3 separate regions of the Homo sapiens genome follow, and all the other regions are reported to be linked to region 1. The links are microRNA targets in miRTarBase. Many come from high-throughput screens and were not tested one by one. Region 1 holds a microRNA gene; each other region holds the end of a gene's coding sequence.

The links. Region 1 holds the annotated microRNA hsa-miR-6762-5p (CGGGGCCAUGGAGCAGCCUGUGU, at 1,923-1,945, opposite strand). A microRNA usually pairs through its seed, bases 2 to 8, with sites in the 3' UTR of a target mRNA and lowers its output. Matches are read on the target gene's strand: a 7mer-m8 pairs with bases 2 to 8, a 7mer-A1 pairs with bases 2 to 7 and ends in A, and an 8mer does both.
Region 2: miRTarBase lists SMYD5 as a target of hsa-miR-6762-5p. Seed matches in the 3' UTR shown: 8mer at 963-970, 7mer-A1 at 1,130-1,136 and 7mer-m8 at 1,988-1,994.
Region 3: the mRNA of TMEM179 is a reported target of hsa-miR-6762-5p. Seed matches in the 3' UTR shown: 7mer-m8 at 4,527-4,533, 8mer at 4,065-4,072, 7mer-m8 at 4,055-4,061 and 7mer-m8 at 2,344-2,350.

Annotation. Positions count from the first base shown.
Region 1 is chr12:113,287,966-113,293,472 of GRCh38, reverse strand. It overlaps MIR6762 (microRNA 6762), which reads right to left and starts at 1,950; the gene lies at 1,865-1,950. It overlaps TPCN1 (two pore segment channel 1), which reads right to left. Exons shown (of 28, transcript NM_017901.6): 20 at 5,239-5,310; 21 at 4,626-4,715; 22 at 3,230-3,345; 23 at 2,475-2,521; 24 at 1,796-1,864; 25 at 1,515-1,599; 26 at 400-539; 27 at 124-204.
Region 2 is chr2:73,225,139-73,230,645 of GRCh38, forward strand. It overlaps SMYD5 (SMYD family member 5), which reads left to right. Exons shown (of 13, transcript NM_006062.3): 12 at 493-563; 13 at 658-2,083. The coding sequence ends at 808. PRADC1 (protease associated domain containing 1) reads right to left here. Exons shown (of 5, transcript NM_032319.3): 2 at 4,975-5,075; 3 at 4,323-4,432; 4 at 3,657-3,824; 5 at 2,872-3,436. The coding sequence ends at 3,316. Among named protein-coding and RNA genes, the nearest start is that of PRADC1, 5.3 kb to the right of the region's middle.
Region 3 is chr14:104,588,924-104,594,430 of GRCh38, forward strand. It overlaps TMEM179 (transmembrane protein 179), which reads right to left. Exons shown (of 4, transcript NM_001286389.2): 4 at 1,941-4,735. The coding sequence ends at 4,556. It overlaps C14orf180 (chromosome 14 open reading frame 180), which reads left to right. Exons shown (of 5, transcript NM_001008404.3): 5 at 1-1,592. Among named protein-coding and RNA genes, the nearest start is that of C14orf180, 12 kb to the left of the region's middle.

The sequences.
Region 1 (5,507 bases):
ATGGACGGTCTGCATCTCTCTACCAGCCTTCTCCCTCTACTCAGAGGGCCAGAGAGCAGCTCCCTGCCCCTCCCAGGACATAGCTTGGGGGAGGATTCGCAGCGTGGTCGGCCAGGCTCCTACCTGGATCTCCTCCTGGTACATCTTCAGGCTCAGGTCGCTCTTGGTCCTTGATCGCCGTCCCAGAAACACCATGGAATGTTGCTAAGGAAGAGCAGAGGCTGCAGGGCTCGGCTGCAGATATTCAGGTCCCACCCCTGGTGCCACAGTTGGCGTCTCCCACTTCTCTGGCTTTTGCAACTGTGTCACTCAAAATGTTACCAATATCTGAGGGAAGGGATTATGCCACCCACACTGAAACCTGCCTCCCTCCTTCGGACCAGGGCCTGGGCTCCTCACCTGGTATCTCTCCATCTGGGAGAGGGTCTCCAGCAGCCTGGTGACATCCGAGGAGGCCCCCCGTGCCTCCCGGTAGAGCTCCAGGACGGCAACCAGCTCTTCTTTGGAGATTTCCTTCTCAAGGGTGATGCCACCATCAACTGCAGGGATGGAAGGCAGGTGTGGGAAGGGCCCGGGGCTGCAGCTGCCAACCTGGCTGGGTCTCGTACCTCCTTGCCCCCTTCCGCAGGGGGTCTTAAGGTTCTCTCTCTAAACCGACACTGCATTGGTGTCCTGCTCTCCTCGTTGGCCCTCCTTTCCCTTCCCCTCCCTCTGCTGTGATGTCAGGAGCGCAGGTCTAGCTGGCAGCTGTTACAGGGCCAGAGGGTTTCAGGAAGGGGCCTCTAAGCACAGAGAAAATGGTCAGATGGTCTGATAGCACAGAGATCTGAGGATGAGAGGTAACAAGTGTGGGCACAGGGTTTTCTGTTTCTTTTAAGAGACAGGGTCTCACTCCGCTGCCCAGGCTGGAGTGCAGTGGTGTGATCATGGCTCACTGCAGTCTTGACCTCCTGGGCTCAAGAGATCAAGTGCAGACAGTTTTGATGGAGAATTTGGGAAGAAGGGAGGGTCAGCACACAGAAAGCTGTGCAATCTGGGAAGAGTGAGGCAGTCACTAAAGCCAGCACCATCCAGTTGCAGCAGGAATACGATTCGCCTGTGCCATAAGCAATATTTACACCATTTAAATCAAGAACCGTAGTGTGAACCTATTATTGAGAAACGTGGAGATGACTAACAGAAGAAATAGCCAAGAAGGAGAAGCCTCTGGAGGACGGGAGGGAAAGGCAGGGCAGGGGCTGCTGCTGCCACATAAGCCTTTCTCTACTTCTTGATTTTTCTCCAACTATGACATGCTCTGTCTTATTTTAAAGTTAGATTACGTTTTCTGACATTAAATATTTGAAAATCAATGCAAATACAAGATCTAGAAAGACAAGCCAGATAGATAAGCTGGACAGCCAGACAGCAGAAAAATGACAGCCTGATGGCTGGCTGGACAGCCACCCAGACAGACAGACAGAGCTGGGTAGGCGGCAGATATCAAATGCCCAAGGCATCATCCCTGCACAGACCTTCCGAGTCCTGGTTCTTGCGGCTGTAGTTCATTCGGAAGACGAAGGCCTCGAGGATAAAGGCGACAATGATCGTCATCACCACCTGGCCAGGGATAGGGAGGGAGGGGCAGAGGCAGGGGAGGAGGGTGGGTAGGTGTCCGTGGCTGCGCAGCCCACGCCCAACAGAGTCCGGCCAGATGGGACCCAGCCCCACTCCCTGACGCTGCAGGCTGAAGAGCAGGGGCAGCTGGTGATGTGGAAGACGAAGGACAAAGAGCGTTCTGTGGTCCGGGACCTACCATGGTCACAATGTAAAAGGTCATGAAGTAGAGGCGGCTCCAGTGGGAGGTCTGAGAGGTGACGCCTTCCTGGAGACCAAGGGAAGCAGCCAGTGAGGGGGTGCCCATGCAGGGCAGGTCCCCGTCTACACAGGCTGCTCCATGGCCCCGGCTCTTCGCAGACCCCACCGTGATTTGTGGCTGGTTGTGAGAGATGGAGGAGAGGAAGCTTGCCCCTCTGGGCCTAACACTAATTCCTGACTGCTGAAGGAGCCCTGGCCACTCCCCTGGACGACTGGATCCAGAACCAGGGCAGCCTTTATCCCAGTAGGGCTGGGAGTCGGGAAAGTTTAAGGAATGGAATAAAGAGATCAGCAATGCTCGCCACTTTGTCACTAGAGGGAAAAGTCATCTCTACAGTGGGCGAGACAGGACAGAGACCCAGAGTCTAAGTGGCATCTCCTGGCTGCTGGGGACATGCAGGGAGATGGGAGTAACAGCCGAGTCCAGCCAACACTGGGAGGGGTGGCTCCTGGGGCCCAGCCATCCTGTGGCCTCCCCACTGAACACCAACACAGCATGACTCAAGACCCCCAGCCCTGCAAGCTACGGGAAGAATTATATACTCTGGGTTGGGGGAGACCCAGGGCCGACCCCAGGGCTGGCGGGAAGATACCCCCAGAGCTGCCCGAGCTCTTACCATGATGATGTACCAGTTGTTGACAACTGTGAGCTCAAACAGGGTCACTGCCGAGGGAAGAGAGAAAGAAGCATCCTGATGAGACCCCACTTCAAAGTCAATTTCAAGTGGCCTCTTGCCACCTATCCTGGGTGCCATGTGCTAAGATGAGAGGGTCACCATATGACCGCTTGGGTTGTGAGCTCCAGGAAAGACCAGGCAAGGCACTCCTAGGGCGCTGGCTCCACAGGACATCATGGCCTGCCCCCAAGAGAACACACCCTCTGCCTCAGCAGCCTGTGCCACATCAGACTATCTGGATCTTACTGGGTGCAGATCTGGGGTGTCATGGGGGCACACCCTTTTTCTGGAGAGGCGGTTTGGCTGTGTTCGCCTCTTCATGGGAGTGGGCAGAGGGCTGTGTGCAGTCTGAGCCAGGGGGCAGTGCAGCTGCAGCAGCAGTGGTGTGGCTGGGTCCCATTCTGCAAGTGGCACTGTGATGAGGGGACCCCGCCCAGCTAAGGCTTGCAACTCTTGTCCTCCCCGGTACTGAGAAAATATCAGGAAAGAGTGGAATCAGGCAACTGAGTGAGCTCCAGGATCCAGCCTGGACTGTACTGCCAAAGCTGGGCAGACCAAGTCCTCCACCTGGGCCAGGGAGGCTTCCAGAAAGTGTGGCCCAGACACTTGCTACACCACCTCTGGGACCCGTGGTGACAAGGGTGACAAGGGTGGGGTCCCCAGGGAATGTGCCCCCTGTGATTTTTCCCACTCACCAAAGCTGTTGAGGATGTTGTCAAAATTATTGAGATAATAGTAGCCTTCCTCCACCACGGTCCTGTTGCCCACGGTGTGGTTGCGCCAGCGGTAGGCATCTGCCACTGTACTCGTGCTGGCCGGAGCACAAGGGAGAAAGGAGGGAGGGTCACAAGGCGATCAGTCACCTCCAGAGAGGACAGAAGTCTGAAACAAACCGAGTTCTGGCCAAGGATCCTTCTGTTCTGCCCGCAGCCTGGTTTCCTGCCTAACCCTCTCCACCTCATGCCTGGGTCCCTGCTGAAGGAATGCCCTTGGCTATTCCTGCCTGCTGGGCTTGGCGGGATCCCCTGGCCAGCCTGACCCACCTCTGTCACCTGGAAGTTGTCTGCTGCAGGCAGGGCCTTCTCTCTCACCGTTGCTTGCAGGGGAGGGAGGAGAGGCAAGGGCCTCCTCTGCACCTGCCCCATCTAGGATCTGCTCTTGAGGCTGGACACTAGGCCACAGTCCCAGGGAAGGAATTCCCTACTGGGGCTTCCCCAATACTTGGCCTGAGCAAGTATTTGAAAAGGTTGGCCCTGTTTTGAGGAGCTCTTATTTGCCACTTTCCTTCCAATCTTTTATGGCTGTTCTGTTAATATCCATGCTAATGTTTATAAAAGTCTAGTGCTTGGGCCACCAGGGAGCCTCCTCCCACACGCATGCATCAGACACAAGAGTGAGGTCTGGAGCTTGCACTAAGCTCCCTGGTGACTGCAATGGGCTCTAAAGTCTGGGACCCACTGCTATAGGCTTCTGGTTCCAGACCAAGCTTGACACTCAAACTGGGTCTCAAAGCTACCAGTGTCTTTGTAAAACTGTTTCTTCATCGGTGCTTGAGGCTGTAAAGACCAAATGTAAGAGGACTCTCTGAATTGAGGATGAATGAATGGCAGTGTGCAGTGATTTCACTGTGGCGGCTCAGGAGAAAGGGAGTGCTCATGGGAGATTTCACTCTCTGCTCCCCATCCCTGAGCACCATGACCTTCCTGCACGTGTCCGTCTGTCTTATCCTACGATGCTGTCCCTAGAAGACTGGTCTTGGCCCAGGTCCCCAGCCACTCCAGGAGAGAAGTGGGAGGAAGCCATGGGACTTGACCTTGGGACCCAGGCTACTGTGGGGGTGGCCTCCAGCCCTCGGCAGAGGGTGAGCTGACAGCTCCCAACCCTGCCTGGGGGATGGAGAAACAGGGACCCCGAGTCCAGGCCCCTCATTTAGCTCACTGCACTCAACTAAGCCCTGAAAGCAAAGCAAGGTGGTTGCTTAGACAGGAACATCCCCGAGGACCCCAAGGCCACAAGGACACCAATCCTGGCCCTGGCCAGCCCTCTGCCCGGGAAATGCAGGCTGCCTGGGGCTGGGTGGGGCCTACTCACTTGCAGCAGTTGGGGAAGACGATCCCGCAGAAGAACTCCATGCCCACGATGGCGAAGGAGTAGTAAAAGATGAGCAGGGTGAGGCCCAGGCTGTGGGGCGACAGGGGCAGGGTGACGCGGGGCCGGCAGGAGGGAACGGCTCCTCTGCAGCCCCGGCCTCCTCGGACCCGTGGGGCTGACTGCAGGGCCATGCCCCTGGTCGGTTCACCAACTGGAAAGTGCCTGCGGGGAAGGGGCCTCGTGGGGCAGCTCTGGGGTGAAAAACAGCTCAAGTCAGGACGCTATGAACAAATGCCCCTTTCCCAGAGATTCACCCCTTACCTGTGAAGGTAGACTCACAGGTGACCCCTTACCTGTGAATGTAGACACAGGTGGTAAGCGAGTTGACAGCTCCCTGCCCTCCCTACTAAATATGTCAGACAGGTCAGTGGAGAAAAATGGTGCCCAGGAGACCTGTGGTGGTCAAGATTCCAGGCTCCTTGGAGCCCCGTCAGGCCCTCGATTGCAGTCCTTTGTGGAACTCCTTTCCCCCGACTGCCACTCGGCTCCCGCCCCCACGGGGCACTGCCACACGGCACCTGGACCTGCAGGCCAGGGTGGGGGCTGGCAGTACCTGGCCATCCGGGGCAGCAGCTCGAACATGGTGTCCAGCACGTTGCGGTAGCGCTCCTTCAACTTAAACAACCTGAGCGAGGAGGACACCCGTCACCTCCACACACAGGTGCACGCCTCAGCCCCCGCCCTCAGAACATGCCGGCCCCGCCTTCCACACGCCATGCGGTGAAGACAGGTGAGGGCCTCTCCTCCACCTGCGTCCACTCCCTTGGGCGCCACCAACCCTGAGCTGGGCTCAGGTGATTCATGCATGAGGGAAGGGATGGT
Region 2 (5,507 bases), not on the chromosome of region 1:
TTCAAAATATGACTCCAGAAAGCCTCAGGACAGTGTTTGAGGGACACCTATGTGCTCAGATTCTTGTCCCCAGCTATCTTTTGGTCAAATGCAGATATGTAATTTCTAAGAAAGCAGGAGATAGCTCTTTGTGGGTTTAGGGTCTTGTCTGTTAGTGCAGGCACAGTGCCTGGTTGAATCTTCTTGAGGGCAAGTAGCATCATACCAAGACCTCTGATCCCAGCTGCAGACCTTGGCCATTGACTGGCTTTCACCACGGCCTGAGGCCAACCAGTCTCCTCTGTCTCAGGCACAGGCTGTTGGAGCCTTATAGTGGCCTGCCTACTGAAGGCACTGGGAACTGGATGAGGGCAGCCAGCCCCTTCACTGAAGGGCAACGCAAACTTGGCTCCTAGAGATGGGGCAGTGGTTGGAGATAGGGTAGCTGTTGGGGAGGTCCTTATGCCATTTAAAAGAGCACAGACCATCAGACTGCACTTCTCTGCCCTACAGGAAATTTGTATCAGCTACTTGGACTGCTGTCAGCGGGAGCGCAGCCGCCACAGCCGCCACAAGATCCTCAGGTGCCAGCTGGGGACATGGTTGTGCAGCTGGGCTCTGGGGTCCTCTACCCATAGCTCCCTGACTTTTCCCCCTCACCATCCCCCACCGCTGCAGGGAGAACTATCTATTTGTCTGTTCCTGTCCCAAATGCCTGGCAGAGGCTGATGAACCCAATGTGACCTCAGAAGAGGAAGAGGAAGAGGAGGAGGAGGAGGAAGGAGAGCCAGAAGATGCAGAGCTGGGGGATGAGATGACTGATGTGTGATGTTGCCCTGCCCAGAAAGGGCCCTGCCCTAGACCCTGCCAGAAAAGGGGGCTCTTCCCCCAGAGAAGTGGCTTGGAGGGAACTTCCCACTCCCATTGCCTGCTTTCCCCATTCCAGCCCTCTCTGCTAGAGGGTAGGAGAGAGCCTGGATCTCTGGCCCCAACCCCCACCAGACCTCATGCCCTGGACACTGCTGCTGAGTTGGCTCAGACTCTGCACTGGCACTGAGCCTTTCACAACTGGCCTCCCCTTGAGGTTCCTCCACTCTAGGGTTTGAGGGGCTGGAATCAGGGCCAGGGCCTAACAGTGTTTCTTCCCCTCGGCCCCACGGCCCATACTCACCCCTTCACCTGAGGCTTCTCCCCTCTCAACTTGCTGTTGATTTCTTTTGAGGGGTAAAAGAAAGACCGAGTTCATTGAAGCAGAGATGGGAGGTGGTGAGGCGTCCTCACCTCCCCCCACCACAGCTGTGGCTGGTAAGGCAACTGCTTGACCACTGGCCCAGCAAGCAGAGGCGGGCAGGAGGATCTGGGCATCCTGAGCCCCTTCCCTGAGGCTGTCTCCTGGGAATGCTGGACCAGGGGGATTACTTCCCCCACCCACACCCCCATTTGGACATCTGGGGAAGTGGAGATTAACCCCTCCCCCAGACTCGTGCCTTGCCTCTCAGGACCTGGCACAGTGGCTGGCCTTATGGAGTATGGAAAAGGCCTCTGCCTTCCTCAGGAGGGACACATAGTGGGTCATCACCCTTTCTCACACCTGCTTCCCAATGAGCACTCAGCAGCATGGCTGAGACCTGGGGCTTGACAGGCCTGCGCTCCTTAGATTAGGATGCTCTGGTATTCCTGGGGCCAGTTAAAATGGGTCAGTGAGGGGCTCTCCTGGCCTCAATCTCCATCTTTAGGGTCTCCACAGACTAACATTGAAGTCTTCCAGAAACCTCGAGGAGCTGGGCTAGATACTTCGAGAGTAGCCCTGTCTTGTCCCCTCCTACCCCCAGATTAGCACCACCCCTCTCACTCTTGGGTTGGATGCTATGGGAATTACAACCCATCACTCCCAATGCCTCCCTTTCCTGGAGGAGCCTGCTGCATTCTCCTGCTGAGGGATCCCAGAGAGGGCAGGTGCCCACCCCACAGGCCCTTTCCTGGACCATGGAGCCAGGTGAAACCTGTCTGGCCCCTTACCCATTGGGTTCTTACTCCTTCACAACGGTCAGCACTCCTCTCCCAGCCCCCCTGCCCACTGTTCTCAATAAAATGTGAGTGGTGAGAGGCCTCTGCAGGAATGCTTTGTGGCAAGTGGCTGGGCAGGCTGCCCCGGGCGTGCAGCAGGCACAGGTGGGTGCAAAGGAATACCAATTAGACCAGGTAATGGTAGGAGATGGGAGCTCCAGGCTCACCAGCTTGGGCTCACCTCTACTGTTATTTACACCCTGCTATGCAAATGTTCTAATGCCCAAGAGCAAGGGTCCTCTGAGGTCCAGTTTGGGTGGTTTTTAAATTTTGAGACAGGGTCTCACCTTGTCACCCAGGCTGGCATGCAGCAATGCAATCATAGCTCACTACAGCCTTGAACTTCTGGGCCCAAGTGATCCTCCCACCTCCGCCTCCTGAGTAGCTGGGACTATAGGCTCACACCACCACACCCAGCTAATTTTTAATTTTTCTGTAGAGATGGGATCTTGCTATGTTGTTGCCAAGGCTGGTCTTGAATTCTTGGCCTCAACTGATCCTCCCACCTCGGCCTCCCAAAGTGCTGGGATTACAGGCATGGGCCACCATGCCTAGCCCTGAGGTCCAGTTTGGACCCCCAGTTCCAGGCTCTAAGATGAGTCTTCTCCTGAGGGGCTGAACTCTGGCTTCCCAGGGCTTCCTTGGCTCCTAGCAGGAAGCTGTGCTGGGATCTAAGACTAGCAGTCTGAGCACTGGTCCCAAATGACCTAGGCCAGTCACTGTCCTCTGTGGGTGTTTCCTTTCCTCAGAACGACAGTATGGGACGATACGAGTGAGTTTGAAGGTCCTGCCCACCCGTGTGCTCTTATTCTAGGACACAGTTGCAACCCTGATGAGAAGCTTTATTGCTAAAAAGTCAGTGAGGGTTTATTGAGTCCCCAAACACCAGCTCTTTAAACCACTCCAACAACTGCTGTGAAGGTCACTGTGCAGAGACCCTGGGTAGGGGAGGCTGGAGCCAGGTGAGTGTGACAGGTCACAGATGGCTCTCAGGCCACCTGCCTTCAGCTCCTTTTGTTTCGGGTTCTAGCCAGAAGCCCTGGGGCCTGTCTCTTGCCTCTTCTTGTAGCATGAGACACCCTTGGGGGCCCTGGGGAAGGGAAGGCCAGTGGTGTGGCTTCCCTTTCAGCCTAGCAACGCCCAAACCCTTTTCCTCTACCTGGCTCCACTTGTCCCCAGATGCTATCTCCAAATTCCAAGTAGCAAAATTCCTGGGTTTCCCCTTCCCAGCTCAGAGTCACTTATGGCTGGAATGTGGGACAAACTCTTCTACCAGAAGGTCCAGGGCGGTTGCAGCAGCTCAAAGGTGGGGATGCTGGTGACATTGACTGGGATGGAAATGATGGCCCATGGCAGCCCATGCTGTTCCAGAGAGCGGCGGATCATGTAGCTGGGAGGGCATGAAGAGAGGTGGTGACGGTCACTTTCTTGGTACCCCATCATGCCCCACTGTCCCCATCAATCTGGGAGTTCCAAAGCCCGAGATCTTTTTTTGCCCTCTAACTGAAGCACCCCAAGTTGAGGCCTGCAAGAAGGGACTGGTGATTACCCCTGACCCAGTCATGGCGCCCAGCCTGGTGCTGATAAAGCCAGAGGCAAGGAGCCCTCACCCGTCTCGGCCGAGCAGGAAGAGGGCGGGGATGTCAGCTGTGCGCTGGGTACTGTCCTGGATCATCTCCACGTAGAAGCTGTCATTGTCAACTGCGTTGTCAGAGATGATCACCGCCCGCCCGCCGTGCTCCTGGACCACCCGAGTCTTGGAGAGGAAGGAGCAGCCCCTGGAAGAGGTGGTGATAAGACCAAAGGAAAGACAGGTCCTAGCTCCCCCTTCCCCAGACCATCACCCTGGGAGTATAGAAGGCAGACTATGAAGAATCTGTTATAAAGGCTCATAAGTAAATAGCTAAAAGCATGGATAATTTAAATACATTTCTTTTTCCTTTTTCTTTTTTTTTGGAGACTGGGTTTTGCTCTGTTGCCCAGGCTGGAGTGCAGTGACGTGATCTCGGCTCACTGCAGCCTTAACATGCGGTCAAGCAATCCTCTCACCTCAGCCTCGAGTAGCTGGGACCACAGGTGTGCACCACCATGCCCAGCTAATTTTTGTATTTTTTGTACAGACAGGGTTTCTCCATGTTGCCCAGGCTAGACATTTCTTAAAGACGCTTAAAAAGATGAAATTTTCAAAAACAGCTCTTTCAAAGCACTACTACCAATAATCTCAGAATCTGCCGTATGCCTGCCCACTCCTCGTGTCCTGCCTGCCCACTCCTTACCCCCTCTCCACCAGAGCAATCTGGTCCTGGATGAAGAAACCGTTGCTGAGTTCCCCGCAGGCCTCTGGAGGTTCAGCGGGGACAAGGTGAATCTGCTCATACCTTGTGTGCTGAAAAACATTTAACATTTGGACAGGTGAGAGTGTAATGAGACACACCTGCTTTAGGACTGGGCTGACAATCCCATCTTATTGGCACCTTATAAAGTGTGAAGGAAACATGGAGTGGTTTCTGTATCGCCAGACACTTAAACATTTTTACTTAATTCTCGCAAAGGCCTATCTGGTTGTCCTACACCACCCTACCCTTCTATGAGATAGGCAGGGGACTTGGTTGTAGATCCAGAGAGAGGAAGTGATGTGCCTTAAGTCACATAGTTCACAGGTAGAGCTGGCAGAGGAAGCTGGTGCTCTTGGCTTTTCACTTCATGTCCCCTAAAAAGACAACTTGTCCCTCCATGGTGCCTAGGTTTATATTATACTCAGGGGAGTAGCTGGAAGAGCTTCCTTTCTGTGCTGCAGCTCATGGAAGGCAGAGCTGATTCTGCTCCCTTCCCTGTCCCAGCACTCAGGTGGGATGAGAGGGTCACTGCAGCTCAGTGAGGGGAAGGGGGAGGTTGAGGATCAGAGATCAGGGGCCTCCCTTAACTTACAAAGATACCACCAAAGTCCTTGGCAGGTGTGGCTGTGAAGATGTATCGAATGTCCCCAGGACTCAGCACTTGAAAGTACAAATAATCATGGATACGGAAGCCTGAAGGATAAAGAGTACAGGTAAGAAGCCTCCCAGGAACAAGCTGGTTCAGGTTCAGATCCCAGACCCTGTGTCTTCAGCTGGGCTGGCTATAGTCTGGGCTCAGGGTCCTGGCTTCAGCCAACGGGGTCCACTAGTGGCAGGGTTGGGGGCTAGATGGCCTCTGTCCTGGGGAGGATAGAGTTGATGCAGAGTCATTAACCCCAGAGGCTTATATCAGCTGCTGCTGCTGCTTACGCAGTAAGCCAGGAAAACTGAGAGCTCCAGGGTTAGTATTTTTGCTCTGAAGACCTGGGAGTTTCAGGGTAGAGATGTAGTGGCCTGCGTACAAAGCAATTCTCACTAAAATTTAAAAGTTGACTTTCTGGTCCCACTGCCATCCCCTTAAGTCTAGTCACTATCATCTCTTGTCCTGACAGCTCAGCTTCTTAC
Region 3 (5,507 bases), not on the chromosome of region 1:
AAGGGGGACCCCGTGGCGTGAGATCGGACATGGGGGGCACAGCAGGCGGCCCCGCCACACTAGTCAGCACAGCCCTCCTGTCTCCTGTGTTGGGTCCATGTGAGATTTTATTAGAAAGAGGATTCGACTGCTAACAGTTGAGGCTCCCCAGGCTCACCCAAAGACCCCTCCCTCGTCCCAGCAGGAACTCCTGCTGCTGCTAGGGCCTGGCCCGGCCATCACCGTGTGCACCCTCTTGAGGAGGGGGACACACTGCCCGTGTTCAAGGGGCTGCTCGGAGGAGGCAAACCCAGCCTTTTGCGATTATGGCTTGTGGGGAATCCAGACCTCGAAACCCCACGGGGAGGGAAGGGTCTGGTTGTCAAGGTGGGTCCCTTTGATGTGAGGTGCCATCCTCTGAGCCCAGGTCTGACCCCCCTACCCAGCCCCGTGAGTCTGGAGAGGCCCCAGGGAAGGACCCCTCATCAGGGGCGGCTTCAGGTGTAGAAGCCGAGGGGACAGCAAGGGGCCCAGACACCCCCGACCTTCAGAACAGCCATCTGTGCCCAGCTCTGCAGGCCAGGCACACCCAGCTGAGCCCGGGGCCAGCCAGCACCACCCACCAGCTGGGGCCTGTGGGTCCCGGAGACCGTCTGTGGTTGTGGCTTTGTCGCCGGATTGCAGAGCTGAAGGGAGCCCTGTGGATGACAAACACCAGGGGCCTCTCCAGACCCTACGTGGGGGGAGGGCTGAACAAAGCAGGGAGGCCCACGGTTAGACACCAGGCAGAACTGCCCAGGAGAGACACAGGGACAATCAGACCAGCGTCCTCGAGGTTAGCCTGAGGCGGGTGGGCACGGCCGACCATCCACCCGGTGGTTCCTGTTTGTCCCACCACTTAACTGGGAGACACTGTTTTATTAAAACACACCGTGGCTTCCTTCAGTCTTGGTGTTTTTATAGAAATGAGAGAAACCAGAACCGATTTGCTAAGGAATCGGCCTCAGTGGCCAAAGCGGATGTCCTGGGCGCCTGGAACCTCCCCATCTCCTGCAGGCCTGGGAGTGGATGTGTCCACTCGGGCAGGGGCTGACCAAGCCCCTGGGTCTTGAGGGATGCCCGGCCGGCTCCCTTTGCCCTGCAGTCAGGGTGTGTCCCTGCAACTCCAGGTGCCAGGGAACAGGTGAAGTGGTCTCCAGGGTCACTTCCAGCTTTGGAATCCAGGGAGCCCAGAGTTGCGGGTGGAGGTAACAAAAGGGGCTGTTTCCAGAAGTGGCCCAGAAGGGACCATGGTGGGGGCTCCCCCGGGGACCCTCCAGCATCTCTCCCCAGGCCCAGCCCATCCCACCCCACCCCAGGAAGGAGGATGGGCAGGTTCCTGCCCCATATTCTGGATGCAGAAGCAGCGGCTCCCAGAGGTTGGGTCTCTCAGAGCAGTCACAGGCCCAGGCTCAGCCCTGTGTGCTTGGGACACCCCTCCAGCCCCGGTTCTGACGGGGGACACCGCACAGGCCGATCTCCCCCAGCCGCTGCTGTCTGTCCACTGCAAAGGCAACGCAAGGACGTGCCTGGCTTTGCGGGGTCCCACGCTACGACCTCAGGTGTTTTCGAATAAACATTGCTCAAAGATGGGCACCACACCCCCAAGAGATCCTTCGAAATGGATCCTCCCACCTGGGGAAGCTGCATGGGAAGCAGTGAGACTCGAAGCCACTAGAAAATGTACAGAGAGGAAGGCAGAACCTCGGGAAGGCCAACTTCTAATTCCTAAAAGCTTCGGACACGAAAGGCTCAAAGCCTGAGCAAACTGTGTGTGACCCACAAATTACAGACAGTTAGAACCACGAGCCAGGCCAGCCAACAGCGGAGAGGGCAGACAGAAGCCCCACACGCTCCTCCTCATCCCTGTTGGAGACTCGGGTGCTTTTGTTTTTATTTTGATTTTGAGGAATAGACACATGTAAGCTTAAGGATCTTTACTTTCAGTTTAGCCAGAGTGGAATTAGAACAGGGATATCATTAACAGCCAGCCAGGACAGAAGCGAAGGCGTCTCAGAAGCAACTTGGTGGACCAGCCTCAGGAACCCCGGGTCATGCCTGCACTTCCCACCTTCCTGCCTGGGGAGAGGCCCAATCCCCTGAGGGACCCTGGAGAGCCCACGACCAGGGCCGCCAGCCCCTGCCCAGCACACTGCAGGCCCAGCTGCCCCTTCCCAGGGCGATGTGTCTGGGCTCCGGAGACAGCCCAGTCCAGGGTGGGTCTATGTCTGCATGCAGCCGAGGATTTCCATCACCCTGGCCATGGGGCTGTTCCACACCTGCTCCTGGGATCCAGCAGTGCAGCCCCCAAGAACAGACCCAACCGGGGCCAAGCCTCAGGTTCCAGAAGCCACCCCTGCCTCCTGCCCCTCCTTCAGGGCCCTAGATGGCTGTGGCCTGGATCAGGGCTGGGCAGAGGGTGAGGCAGGAGCCACCCCACCTTCTGCTGGGGACACAGACAAGGAGCTCTCCGGACTGGAAAGAGTCCCCATGTCCAGTGGGTCAGGGCTGGAAGGGGAGACAGGGGACCCCATCAGCTTAGGGGGCCTCGGATTCTGTCCAAACCCCTTCCCTCGAGGACCTGGCTGCCAGCTGGAAACTCAGCTGGTCCCCAAGGCCAGAGCCCCCTTGAGCTTCCAGAGCCTCGATCCCCCTGGACTTGACACCCCCGATGGGCACCTGCCAGCCTCACTCCCGGGACCCAGGATGATGCCCCCACCAGGACCCTCCATGTGGACCCAGGCACGTGGCCTCCAGGAGGCTGGTGCCCAGCCACCCAGAGACACAAGCCAGCTGCTGATGGTGGACAGGGTGGGTCATGAACTCAGGGAGCCAGGGGCTCGCCTCTCCCCGGGAAGGTGGGCGCAGCAGCAGGGAGCACTTGGCAGCACTCGAGCCAAGAAACGGACAGCCCCTCATCGAGCCCCGGGTGGGGAGGCCCCCCGCCTCCGCCCCCGCCCCAGAACGAGTCCTCTGGAGGTGGACCCTGGGCTTTCCTGAGGGGCAGGGTCCACAGCCAAGCAGCCCCCTACGCCGGGGTCCCAGGTTCACATCCCAGCTCCTCCACTTGCTTCTGCGGGGCCTCAGCACACAGACTCTGCAGAATGGGAAGGCAGCTCCCTCCTCTCTCAGGTGGATGCTGGGCGTGGGAGCCCATGGGAGGGGCAGAGGGGCTGTCCACACAGCACCCACGGCTCCCATCACGCACACAATGCTCACACGCACAGGCGTGCACATGCTCACATGCAACACACGCACATTCACATGCACTTACGCACATGCTGCACACACTGCAGACACACCTGCCTAGACACTCACACCTACACACTCTTCCTCACACTCACATGCATGCACACTCATGTCACAGGGAGTCACACCCTCACACTCACATCCTCCCAGGCACACTCACAATCAAGCCTTCACACGCACAACAGTCACACCCTCACATGCAGTCACACCCACATGCACACTCATGCACAATCACATCCTCCCAGGCAGTCACTCGCACATGCAGTCACACATTCACTCACAGGCAGTCACACTCTCATGCACTCAGTCACACCCTCACATGCACACTCATGCACACTCATATCCTCCCATGCAGTCACACACTCTCACATGCAGTCACACCCTCTCGTGCACACTCAGTGACACCTTCACATGCAGTCACACCTGCACTGTCACACCCACACATGCACACTCAGTCACATCCTCTCATGCACTCATATACACAATCACACCCTCCCATGCACAAAGGCACTCACAATCACATCCTCCCATACTCACCCACACACAGACCCCTGCCATGGCTCCTGGCCCAGTCCTCTATGTGGTACGTGTGCCCCCGAAATCCCCAACCAGATGATGCCCCCGATTCTGTGGAGCCCAGATTACCACTTCCCTGACCCTCAGCCAAGCACAGACAGGACCCACACACAGTGAGGTGAACTCACAGGCCTCAGAAGCCTCCCTGAGCCCGGCCACAGGGTCTCCCAGGCCTATGGCACCCACCCAGGAGGGGGACTCAGCTGGGGAGGGGGCCAACCTGGGGCCAGAGGCTGGAAGGTGCCGTGAGCTCCTCCCCACACGCAGCCTCTGCCTGGATGGCAGAATTCATGCAGAATTCGTTCAGGGCTAAGTGACATCTGGCCACCCCTGGGCCAGCTGGCATGGAGACAGCATCCGGCCAGGGTTGGGGGAGACAAGCTGGACGCCCTCCACATAGGCTGGCCAGTCAGGTCCTACTGGGACAGCCAAGGGGCCCTGTGCGAGGCCTGGAGGTGCCCCCCGCCCCCGCCCCACACCCATAGTCTCTCTGCACCATCCTCATCAGGGAGCCGGCACCCACCCAGTCCACTGCCAGGCTCACAGGTGGGCACTGGGGCGCTCACCTCACTACACGTGGCGTCGAGGGGACACACGCAGGGCTGCATGTGGCCAGGGCCCAGGCAGAGCCCCCCAGCTGCTTCCCCAGGCAGGCCCGTGCCCCCGAGCGCAGCAGGGAGGTCGGGGCCAGCTCCCCCTGCCTGCACTGTGCCTAAATGACAGCGCTCTTCTCCTCTTGGAAGGAGGTGCGTGGGGACGGCCGGGCCAGCAGCAGCTCCTTCTCGTGGATCAGGCTGTCCAGCAGGTCCTCCTGACGGTAGTTGTGGTAGACCTTCAGGAAGGCCAGCGTGGTGATGGCCAGCCAGGCCAGCCATGAGGCCCAGAGGCCAAACTGCACAGAGGGCAGGGTCAGGGTCAGAAGCCGTTGGGGGTCCGCTGTCAGTGCAACCCCCTCCCACCAGCCCCCAGGCTCTGCTCTGCAGGGAAAGGACAGGACTCAGAGGAAGGAGGAGGCCGGGGACATGGGGCAGGGCCAGCTCCTGAAGACCCTGCCCAAGATCAAGCTTCTGAGTTCCTTCCTGCAGCCAGCATCGTTTTCCAGCACCTGTGGCCCTCCCGGAACCCACTCTGGTGCAAAAGCCCTGGGCACTCAGACCAACCCTCACTCCAGGCCGGCCAGAGGCCCCGAGGAGGGGCAGTGGCCAGTGGCGAGTGCTTTCTCCTCCAGCAGCTCCGGCCTGTCGGCTCTAAGGAGGGCGGGTAAACAGCGGAGGCTCCTCCAACCACCGGAATAAATTGACCTTTAGCCGCTGTTTCCAAACAGTTGAAGGAGAAACAATTTAATCAGAACCAGGCCTGAGCTACATTAAGCTGATTCTCATTTGAGCGTATTTGCCATCAGACTGCACTCACACCTTAATCCAACTGGCACAAATTAGGCCTGAGGCCTCTTCCACTCACTAAATTTGCATGAAGGTGTCTTTGACAGGTCCAGTTCATCTCGGCAAAGAGCATTCAGGCCCACCCATGTCCAGCACCCTTGGAGGGCTCCTGGCCAGGAGAAGCGTCCTCAGGCCAGCCACGGCCAGCAAGAGCCTTCAGAGGCCAGCCTGGGGTCCGGAATTGGACCTGAAGCCAGCGGGCCCTGATCAGTGCTGGCAGGA